Linked DNA regions of Homo sapiens: region 2 is linked to region 1. Evidence: fine-mapped expression QTL. A gene starts in region 1. The other region holds a variant in brackets. All regions are shown on one strand. Distances are between the middles of the regions. Region 1 holds the start of PVT1 (Pvt1 oncogene). Region 2 overlaps PVT1 (Pvt1 oncogene).

What was found. PIP is the estimated chance that this variant, and not a neighbour inherited with it, causes the effect.
Region 2: its variant is fine-mapped to the expression of PVT1 in whole blood (TOPMed, PIP 0.99).

The regions. Positions count from the first base shown.
Region 1 is chr8:127,791,531-127,796,902 of GRCh38, reverse strand. It overlaps PVT1 (Pvt1 oncogene), which reads right to left and starts at 2,379. Exons shown (of 9, transcript NR_190187.1): 1 at 2,169-2,379. MIR1204 (microRNA 1204) reads right to left here and starts at 941; the gene lies at 875-941. RefSeq lists enhancers at 904-1,243, 1,344-1,393, 1,115-1,686, 1,687-2,256, 3,399-3,969 and silencers at 2,374-2,533, 2,544-2,603, 2,624-2,673.
Region 2 is chr8:127,993,552-127,998,923 of GRCh38, reverse strand. The region is part of intron 4 of PVT1 (Pvt1 oncogene); the gene reads right to left. Among named protein-coding and RNA genes, the nearest start is that of MIR1206, 13 kb to the left of the region's middle. RefSeq lists an enhancer at 2,254-2,343. The variant A/G (reference allele first, on the strand shown) is at 2,309.

The DNA.
Region 1 (5,372 bases):
CTGTCTCAAAAAAAAAAAAAAAAAAGCAAAACAAGAGAAAAAGAAGAATCTTATGTCTGCAGCCAACTATGAAAGGAAATGCAAAATAAAAAGGCCACACATCCAGAAGGGCCACCTGATATAAAACAAATAGCAAAGGGGCAGCCATCAGCAGGCCTGCCACTGCCTCTCCAGACGACCTGGACCGGCAACTATCCAAAGTCTTCCACTTCCCCCAGATATTCTGCCAATACTCTGCCCAAATGCAGGGCCACTCACACAAACAGGAGGAAAGAACAGGGTGTCTTATAGTCCAGGAGATCTCTTGACAAAGCTGCCAGAGAAACGTGTCCATCTTGGGCAGGCAGAAGGCCCAGGCATGGCAAACACAGGCTCCAGAATCCAGCCAGAGTGCCTGCCTACCGCTCAGGAGGCGGAAAAAAAAAACAACTAAAGAACAGGGAATTGATTTGATGTGGGCAGTGAGAATTCACCAGGTTTTCAGACCAGCAATCATATAAACTAGTGGGGATCAGATATGTCAGAACAGAGGGGAGAACTCCTCCTTTCCAGTGCAGAAAAGCTCCAGCCACAGAAACACAGCATGGAGGTGGCGAGGGGCGGGGGAAGGTGTTTAAGACAGAGGAAAAGGAAAGTTAATCAGAAAAAAAACAAAACAAAACAAAAACGGACTTCTATTTTTCAAGAGAAGCCGTTTATGCAAAAATTCTGCACTCAAGATAGATGAGGCAACAAGAATAAGCCACTCTTAACCAGGCAAAACAGCAACACAACCACTTAACAAATCCCTCTGGGAATTCAATGGGTACAGCATATACCCCACAGTCATACCCGTAAGTGGAATTCCAGTTGGGCCCTTGTGCCGAAGCTTTAGACCACGAGGCACGTCCTCACCTCCAAGATGTAACTCATCTCAAATAATGGAGACCAGGCCACGAGGTTTCTCCCAGACACGGATTCTGTATTTGTCCTTCTGCAGCTTCCGGGAAGGTTTTTCTCCTAATAAATCCTGTAGAAAGTTCCACTCAGGGTTCTGAGGATTGATACAACCCCCTTCTTGACTGATCAGAGCTTTAGAAAGATTCGCTATGACCACAGGACTGTGTCAAGTTGAACAAGTCTCAACTTGTCGCTGCCAGTATGCAAAATAGGTCTGAAACATCTTATAACAGACAACACAGCAGACACAGTCCCTGCATCCTCAGGGCCCCCGCCCACCCACCACACACAAACACATTTCTCTAGAGTTTTTTTTTCCTAGCAAGGAACTAGCCCCAGTAGCCAGGATTCACAGTGGTGGAGTGGGCGAGAGACAGGCTAACAGCCTCTCTCTGGAAAACCTAATACCAGAAAGGAAACACCAAAACCTCATCCTCTTGTCCCTAAATCCTTGCACGTGATTTCTTCTCCTCTCTAATGTTCTAGAAGGGCCTAAAGTCAGGAGCTTAGATGAACAGAAGAATCTTCCATGCCTGCAAACCACCAGGAAAAGGCATGAGGCATCCACACACAGACGCATGCAGCTTCATGGCTGTGCTTCCTGAAAGTCTACACCCAGAACCACAAACACTGGCATAAATAAGAGCACGTTAGCAAGAGAAGGCAAACCTAATTAAATCAACAGCCCAGCCAAGAAGAATGACCATGATGAGGGTTTAGGAGCACCCAACAAACCCTCACATGCGATGCAAAAACTGAGAAAGTCTCAAAACACGGAGTTACTGAGTTTTTGGAAATCACCTTCGCCCAGCCCTGAGGGGGTGTGAGAGGAAGCGGGGAGTGATGGTCAAAGGATGGAGGGAGGATCACACATTCACAGACCTCTAGTTTCGCCAGAGGGGCCTCCAAACCACATCATGGCTCCAAATCTGTTCTGACTGCAGAGGGGTCTATTTTTAGAAATTAGTTAATATGCCTTTGATCAAGTTCATAAATCCAGAATTGCCTCTATGCACCGGCCATTCGGTGTCATCCCCCTCCCCTCACCCTCCCCAAACGCCCAAACTCGCCACCAGTCTTGAGGCTGGTGATGAGGACAGTGCACGCCTAGCACACACATATTGGATTCCGAAAGCCCCTTTCCTCCGTCCGACTACTCACAGCGCATCCCTACTCAGGGCCAAGTCTCGAGAGTTTCCAGAAACGCAGGGGACAAAATTGGAACTTACTGGAGGGCAGATCTGGCCGTGTCTCCACAGGTCACAGGGACCGCCAACATCCTTTCCGCAAGGAAATCCACTGGAAGGTGCCGGGGGTCCCGGGGCACATCTTTGCTCGCAGCTCGTCGTCGCCCCTCCTCGTCCCGGCCGCCCCGAGCCCGCCCGGCCCGCGGGCCCATGTGCTCGGCCGCCACACGCGCTCTGCCCGGAGGAGCGCGGGGCTGGCGGGTTGCCCGTGACGTCACGGCGGCTCGCGCTCGGGCCTCGGGGGAGGGGGGAGGCGCGCGCGGCCCGGCCCGCCGCGTGCGTCCTCGGTCCCGGCGCTCCCGGCCTTCCCCAGGTCCCCGCCCGCCGCCCGGTGCGCCCCTCAGCCTGCTTCCCGGCAGCGCAGGGCACTGAGCCGGAGAGGGCCGCGCGCGGAGGCGGGGCGGGCTTGGGCGACTGCGGCCGCCAAGGGCCCAGACTGGGGGAGCGGAGGGTAGGCTCTGCCCTGGGCTGGGGGTCCTCGCTACAAGCGCGCCGGAGTCCCACCGGGCCGGAGGGAATCCCCGGTGATGCCAGCTCGCTTGTGCGCCGAGCTTTCCACGGTCTTTCCCTGAGCCCTCTTACCCTTCCCCACACCGTCCTGGAAGCAAGCGGTCTTCCCACTTTCCTGCTGAGGAAGGCGAGTTCAGTGAAATAGGAGGGCCAGAGATGCTCCGGGATAGGTGCAGTTCCCGCAGAAGACCGCCGACTGAGCTCCAGCTCCAGTGATCTGAGCGCCTCTTTGGGTACCACCCAGCATCCGCCGGCCTGGTGAGAAGGGCGCGCGCACCTTCTCGCCTCCTTCGACGTCTCCCGCTGTTTCCAGAAGCCGAGTTGCAAACCCGTGCAGAGGGCCAGCGGTCTGCGCAGCTCCCTCCACTCCGGGCAGAGTTGACCTACAGAGTGTGTTCAACGAGTCCCTTAAATGCCCAGTAGTTCCTCCAAAGGAGCAAGTGGACACTGGCCTCCCATGTGGGATGTGGTTATCTTGTTCTATCTGCATAAACCCGAGACTGGACAGATGTAAGAGCTGCCCCTGTTCAGTTCAAAGTTTATTTTATTTATTTATTTATTTATTTATTTATTTATTTATTTAGAGATGAAGTTTCACTCTGTCACCCAGGCTGGAGTGCAGTGGCCCGATCATGGCTCACTGCAACCTCCGCCTGCCTGGTTCAAGCGATTCTCCTGCCTCAGCCTCCGGAGTAGCTGGGATCACAGGCGCGCGCCACCACGCCCAGCTAATTTTTGTAATTTTAGCAGAGACAAGGTTTCACCATGTTGGCCAGGCTGGTCTCGAACTCCGAACCTGAGATGATCCACTCGCTTCGGCCTCCCAAATTGCTGGGATTACAGGCGTGAGCCACCACGCCAGCGCCCGTCCAGTTCAACGTCTACTGAGCACTTAAGGGGAGTCAGGCACCCAGCTAGGCAATGGGGTGGGGGTTACTCATGGACCCTAGAAGGACGTCACAAACCAGCAAAAATTGGACACACAAATGGGTGGTATCAATATTACGGAACAGAAGGTTGCCCCTCTTCTCCCCTGCCGGCTACCCTACATCCTACTCACTCCAACCTACCCGGAGGCTCCTCCCTCTTTCTGTGTAGTGTTTCATCACATCTCTTCCCGTGGCGGCTTCTCAACGCAAATGTTCTTATTTGAAAAAGAAAAAACAATTACTCAGTTGATGCTCCTGTTCTGCCTGTTTCACAGATTCATTTACACTCATGGGCATCTCTTTTGTGCCTGGCTCCTTGCCAGGAGCTGGACAAGTCTCCGCTTTGTGCCTGGCTCTCTGTGAGGGGCTGGACAGGTGTCTGTTTTGTGCCTGGCTCTCTGTGAGGGGCTAGACAGGTGTCTGTTTTGTGCCCGGCTCTGAGAGGGACTGGGCAGGTGCCTGAGCTGCAGTTGGCATCTAGTTGTCATCCATCTTTTAAAATATAAAAAGAAGATGATGAGAAACCTCTGCATCTATACATCATGCGATAGGAGCTGTGAGACCTTAATCCTTTCACTGCTTAATCATTTTTTCCAGAAACCAAAGGCTGTGACCTTGAGGAAGCCAGTGTCCTCCTGGGGGATGCTGGTGGGCTATGAGAGGACCAGCTTCTAATGGCAGACGTCTCTGTCCATGTCCTGACAGTTGATGCCCAGTCCCTTCTGCATGGAAAATCTCCCCTGGCTGAAAAGACACTTTCACCCAGGACTCACTCAACTTTGACCTTGATGCTGTTTGCCCTCTCTGGGTCTCCAGCTCTCATGCACTAATCTTAGATTCACATTTTCCTTTTTATTAATTTCTTTTTTAGAATTAAAACATTTTTTCAGTAAAAATACAAAGAAAAAATAATATTTTAATATTCCTACCATCCAAAATAAACATTTTGGTATATCTGCTTTTGTTTTGTTTTGTTTGTTTGTTTGTTTGTTTGTTTGTTTGTTTTTAAATGGAGTCTTGCTGTGTTACCGGGCTTGAATGCAGCAGCTCAATCTCGGCTCACTGCAACCTCCACCTCCTGGGTTTAAGCGATTCCCCTGCCTCAGCCTCCCATGTAGCTGGGACTACAGGCGTGCGCCACCATGCCCTGCTAATTTTTTGTATTTTAATAGAGACGGGGTTTCACCATGTTGGCCAGGATGGTCTCGATCTCCTAACCTCGTGATCCACCCGCTTCAGCTTCCCAAAGTGCTGGGATTACAGGCGTGAGCCACCGTGCCCAGGCCTGCTTTCATTTTTTAAAAGTCACTTTTCTTCTTGCAAAAGTGATATTATATATATATATACACACACACACATACATACACGTTGTAAAACATTAAAACTCTGCAGAAAAAAAAATAGAGAAGAAAAACAAATTTTATCAGCCAGAAATAATTTTTCTGAATATCAGATGAGGCCTTTTTGGGCACAGATGGATACATATAGGCATAGATCTTGATATAGATATATAGATGGATGCAGGATTGACAAATAGATAGGAAAAATATTTTACAATGTTAATGTCTCATAGTTGCAATTTTTAAGAAATCTAATTTTTTTAGTAGAAGAAAAGGAAGCTAACATAAAACTAAAGGAATTGTTGTGTTTTAAATATTTATTTACCACATGAGAAGCATTGCTTTCTAAATAAGGCTACAAAGGTTCAGAAAAGATAATGAAAAGCAAGGAAAGAGTGGCATGATGA
Region 2 (5,372 bases), 200 kb before region 1:
AGCCCTAAGCATCTTATAGTGCCAGAAAGTATGGATGCACCAAAAAAAGAGAGAGAGAGAGAGAGAGGGAGGGAGGGAAGGAAGGAAGGAAGGAAGGAAGGAAGGGGAGGAGGAGAAGAGGAAGGAGGAAAGGAAGGAAGAAAGGAAGGAAGGAAAAGGAAGGTAGGAAAAGAAAGGAAGAAAAGGAAGGAAGGAAGGAGAAAGGAAGGAAAGAAAGAAAGAAAGAAGAAAGAAAAGAGGAAGGGAGGGAAGGAAGGAAGGAAAAAAGGAAGAAAAAGGAAGGAAGGAGGGAGTGAGGGAGGGAGGAAGGAAGGAAAGAAAAGAAAAAAGAAAAGAAAAGAGGGAGGGAGGAAGGGAAGGAAGGAAGAGAGAGAGAGAGAGAGAGAGAAAGAAAGAAGGAAAGAAAAGGAAGAAAGAAAGACCCATAATAAGAAAGTATGTCAAATGGGCACAGGAAGTAACTGAAGAGTTCCCAATAGCCAAGGAAGAAAAACCATGAGCAACAAAATAAAACCATATTATTGGATTATAACTCAAATAAATTAAAAATTATCAAATAAATACCTGCAAGTCCATGCTGATATATAAATAAATAAATAGGAGAGAGGAGTTAAATCTCCCAGGTAGAAAAAATCTAAATAGTTCATGTAGATCCTCTAGCCATGGAGAAGGAAGAGCAGGAATGCCCTCTTCTTAGGGGATGGCTATGCACAGTGACTTCCTTCTGAAGAGTTTAATATAAAAAGGGAGTTAAGAAAGAACAAAAACACAAAAGTATCTTTAAAGTGGACAAACCTGACAACCACTACAGCAGCCAGGTAATCAAAGTCAACATCAGTGATAGGTCATGCTGATGGTGCCTACCCTTGATTTCATAAAAGCGGAACTTTACCTCTGTGGCCTTCCTCCATAATCCCAATCTAATAAGAAGAAGAATCAGACAACCCTCACAGAGGTACGTTCTATGAAATACCTGACCAGTCAAAACTGGTCATCAAAACTCAAGACTGTCAATGTCATCACAAACCAGGAGAGTCTGAGAAAGCGGCACAGCCCAGGGCAATCTAAGAAGACATGATCACTAAATGTGATGTGGGATCCCAGATGGGATCCTGGACCAGGTAAAAACTAAAGTAATGTTTCAACTTCAGTAAATAATAATGTATCAATATTGGTCCATTAATTGTGGCAAATGTGCCACACTAATGCAAAGCGTTAGTAACAGGGAAAACTGGGAGCAGGGTATATGAGAACTTTTTGAACTGTTTTCACAATTCTCCTGTAAATCTAAAACTCTTCTGAAAATAGAGTTTATTCTTTAAAAGTGTCTGGAGGATGTGCACAAGGGTGTGGCAGCAGAGGGGCTACAGGTAAAAAATCATGACATCTGGAATATTTCCTTCAATTTTTGCTCCACACGGTGACTATCTTACCCTGCTCCCATTAAACTCTGAACAATGTTATCAGCCTGAAAAATGGATTGGCAGGAATGTGTAATGTCGAAGCTGGGAGGGACTATGGCGGCCATCCAGGCCCCTGCTTTCAATTACACTTGAGGAAAATCAAATCCAAAGACCGGAAGCGGCCAGGCTCGGTGGCTCACTCCTGTAATCCCAGCACTTTGGGAGGCTGAGGCAGACGGATCACCTGAGGTCAGGAGTTCGAGACCAGCCTGACCAACACGGAGAAACCCCATCACTACTAAAAATACAAAATTAGCCGGACGTGGTGGCGCATGCCTGTAATCTCAGCTACTGGGGAGAATCGCTTGACCCCGGGAGGCAGAGCTTGTGGTGAGCTGAGATCACGCCATTGTACTCCACCCTAGGCAACAAGAGTGAAACTCTGTATCAAAAAACAAACAAACAAAAAAAAAAAACGAAAGCAAATGACCAGTGAATGTTCCAGTTCAGTGCCCATGGGTAGAGCTGAAATCCTCAGGGTCCTGGAAGACTGATGGACAGCAATGTCAGCCTGTCCTCAGAACAGGCCACTCTGCAGAGGAAACCGAGGCTCACAAGAGCCAAGAGCCTTCTTCCCAGCCAGAGGGCTGGCAAGCAGCAAAGCAGAGAGCCAGGTTCAGGTCTCCTTTCCGGCTTCACAGAAGTGCTACCTCCCTGCTACCACTAACCCTCACACCCCCGACCCCTGTCCCCATGGCCAGTCACTTTCCCGTTTCCTCCCACAGCAGCAGGGGGCGGCGGCTGAAGACTCAGGTAAGATGCAACTCAGGGAGGATGGCACTTAGATTGGTTTCTCTTTCTTTTTTTCTTGATTCTGTCTTTATGAAACTTTGCTTTAACCCAAC[A/G]TTGTTTAAATCCCGACCTGGTTTCTCGTGAGCTTGAAGCCAGGGTGCCCACACTCTGCAAAAGAAGAAAAATGCCAGTATGAGTCCTTGAGGCTCAGTGTTGTTGTGCAGTCCGTGGACAGGACAATGTCCTCATTTCAAGGTTTCATTTTTGGAGGAAAAAAAATTCCTCAGGATGCAGGATGCCCTGCATCCCATAATGGGTATGCCCCCATTGAAACCAGCTCTGGGAGGGTGACCAAACTAAAAAGGAAACAGTTCCAAGCAGAAGGACACAAATTACCAGCAGAGTCATTATTACTCACAGCAATTCAGGCCCAGGGTCTATGTGGTGCAGGGTTTCTGAAAGCCGGCCTATACCTGGGAAGGAGGGAGAGAACCAGAGGCCTGGATGCTGGGTGGAGGTTCTGTGATTTACTTTGTTACAAATTTAAGAATAAAACCTGCTGGATCAGGAGCTTTTCCTATCTCCTCAAATAAACCTGGATCCCAAGAGGAACAGAAAGGAGAAAGGTGAGTGTGGGAGAGGAATTGGAGTGCAAGCTCAGAGGTCCTTGAGGGAGGGAGGAGAAGGTGTCTGCTTTGGGGAATGGCAATAAGAGGTATGTTGGGATGGAGATACCCAAATGTGTAGCACTTATACCGATTTAGCAAATGGTCCTCTCATTAGCAAAAGCTTCTAAACATTAGCCTTAAGTTTAAAAAAAAAAAGGACATTTGAAATTATGCAAAAGCCCAGAGCACCAATATGCGCTTCACATACGTTCCGCAGGAAGATTCCTTCATTTGCAAACTGGAGTATATTACGTAATCATTTCCATTTCCTGGCAGGTTGTGAAGAGTAAATGACATCATATAATGTAAAGTGCTTGAAACACCATGAATAATACATTTGAGCTATTACTATTTTTACCATGATTACTGGTAGATTAAAAGCAGTCTCTTCATGGCCATCTTGATTACTACTAGTACTAACACGACCATCACCGCAAACACTACTACTACTATAAGGATAGTACTTTATTAGCGGTGCTTAATAGAATCTATTATAATTCTCAATACTTAGCATATTTCAGGAGGAAAACTGACTGACGGACTGATATAATGCACAATTAAAGAAATGAACAAAGAAATGGATAGATTCCTATAATGTGGGGGGTGTATCTTAAAAGAAAAGCAGTCCAATAGGTTTCAAAGAGCAAAACCAGGAGTCAAGAGCTGTCTCTAATCCCAGGAGCCGGATGCTGTGAACACAGGAGTGTTCAATAAATACCTAACTGATGTCTGAGCAAGGAAGAGACAAAGAATGACAACAGTCAATTGGGCTTAGCTTAGATAAACACTCAAAGCCAGGATACAGACAGAACAGGACAAGAGTGGCTCTTACAGTCACTTGATTCAGGGTCCTTGTTTTAATGATGGGGCTGTGAAGGATCAAAGGGGTCAGCTGGGGCTCAACACTCAAAGGGCAGCTTTGGGCCAAGTCAATCAAACCAGCCTGGTGAGCTGAGATGCACGTTACCCAGTAAATACAGGTATTGGGATAGACTGTGTCTCTGCAGTGTGATGGTTAATTTTGTGTGTCAACTTGACTGGGCCACAGGATTTCCAGAGAGCTGGTTAAACAGCATTTCTGAGTATGTCCAGATGAGATTATCACTTCAACCAGGAGACTGAGTAAAGCAGATGGTCCTCTTCAATGTGGGTTGGGCCTCATTCAACCCACTGAAGGCCTGAATAGAACAGAAAGGCACAGGAAGGTTGAATTTCATCTCTGCCTGATTGCTTGTTCTGGGACATCGATCTTCTCCTGCCCTTGGCATTCCTGGTCCTCAGGCCTTCGAATCTGGACTGGAATCTACACTACAGGTTCTCCAGCCCTCTGCCCTTTGTGACACGACAGCTGTTTCCTAGGTCTCCAGCCTGCAGGTGGCAAATCACAGGACCCCTCTGGGTCCATAATTGCATGAGCCAATACCTTATAATAAATAAATCTCCTAGATATAGATATAAATATCAAGGTAGATATTGATATAGACATGGATACGCATCTATCTTCATGTTCTATTGGTCCTGTTTCTCTGGAAAGCCCTGACTAATACATCTGTATATTTTGAAGGCTTTAAAGAAGGACAAAGCTCTTTTTTATCCACTCTGTTAACTCCTCATAGCCTATCTCAGCAACTGACTCATAACAGGAAAGTGGACAAGGGCAGAGAGGACAGGAGGGAATGGCTACCTCCTGCCAGTCACCACACAAGGTGCTGGGGAGGTGGGTTCAGTGAGACCCAAGGCTCTGCTCCCAGGGAAAGTTGGAGAGATCGTGTTTCCAGGCGAGATCCCAAACACAGCCCCCATCAGCAGAACCCGTCCCACAAGAGGCACTGTAGAGAGAAAGATCCTCATTTTCAGAAGAAACAGAGCTGAAAGAAGGGACTAGGAGTGGGCAGAGGACAATGGTGGAGAAGGAGAGACAGTTGGAGAGGGGGTGAGGAGCAGCACAAGAGAGTACAGAGAATGTGCTGGGAGAACAGGCAGGCACAGGGCAGGTTTAAGGGATTCAGAAGACTCATGTCCTGATTTGGGAGCCACCATCCATGAGCAGGGGGGATCTCAAGCAATGCAATTGCTCCAAGCCTCCAGTCCCTTCATCTGTGAAATTCTGGCATCCATGAAGCTAGCTTCACTCCCTGTGATTCCTTCAGAGAAAGCACAGTGGCTTTTCTCCTTTATTCTAGGCACCCTGCACAGTGGCACACTGCAGGTTCTCGTTCGATATTTGTGCAATACAAGAAAGGAGAAAGGATGAGAAATCACTTTATAAACTGTAAAGTCCTGGGCAGATGACAGGGCTGCCTTTGTTTCTTAAGGCAGACTGGGGAGCTTCTGAAAGGGGAATACTTTCTTCCTCACTTTGCCTTTCCAGCCCCAAGTCAGTGTCCTGAATTCAGTTAACTCAAGAAAACGTTCTCCAAGCATGTCCTATGTGCTGTCAAAATGCCAAAAGCTGGAAGCAGACAGAGAACAAGACCTAGACCCTGCAATCCAGGGGAGAAGAGCTGAT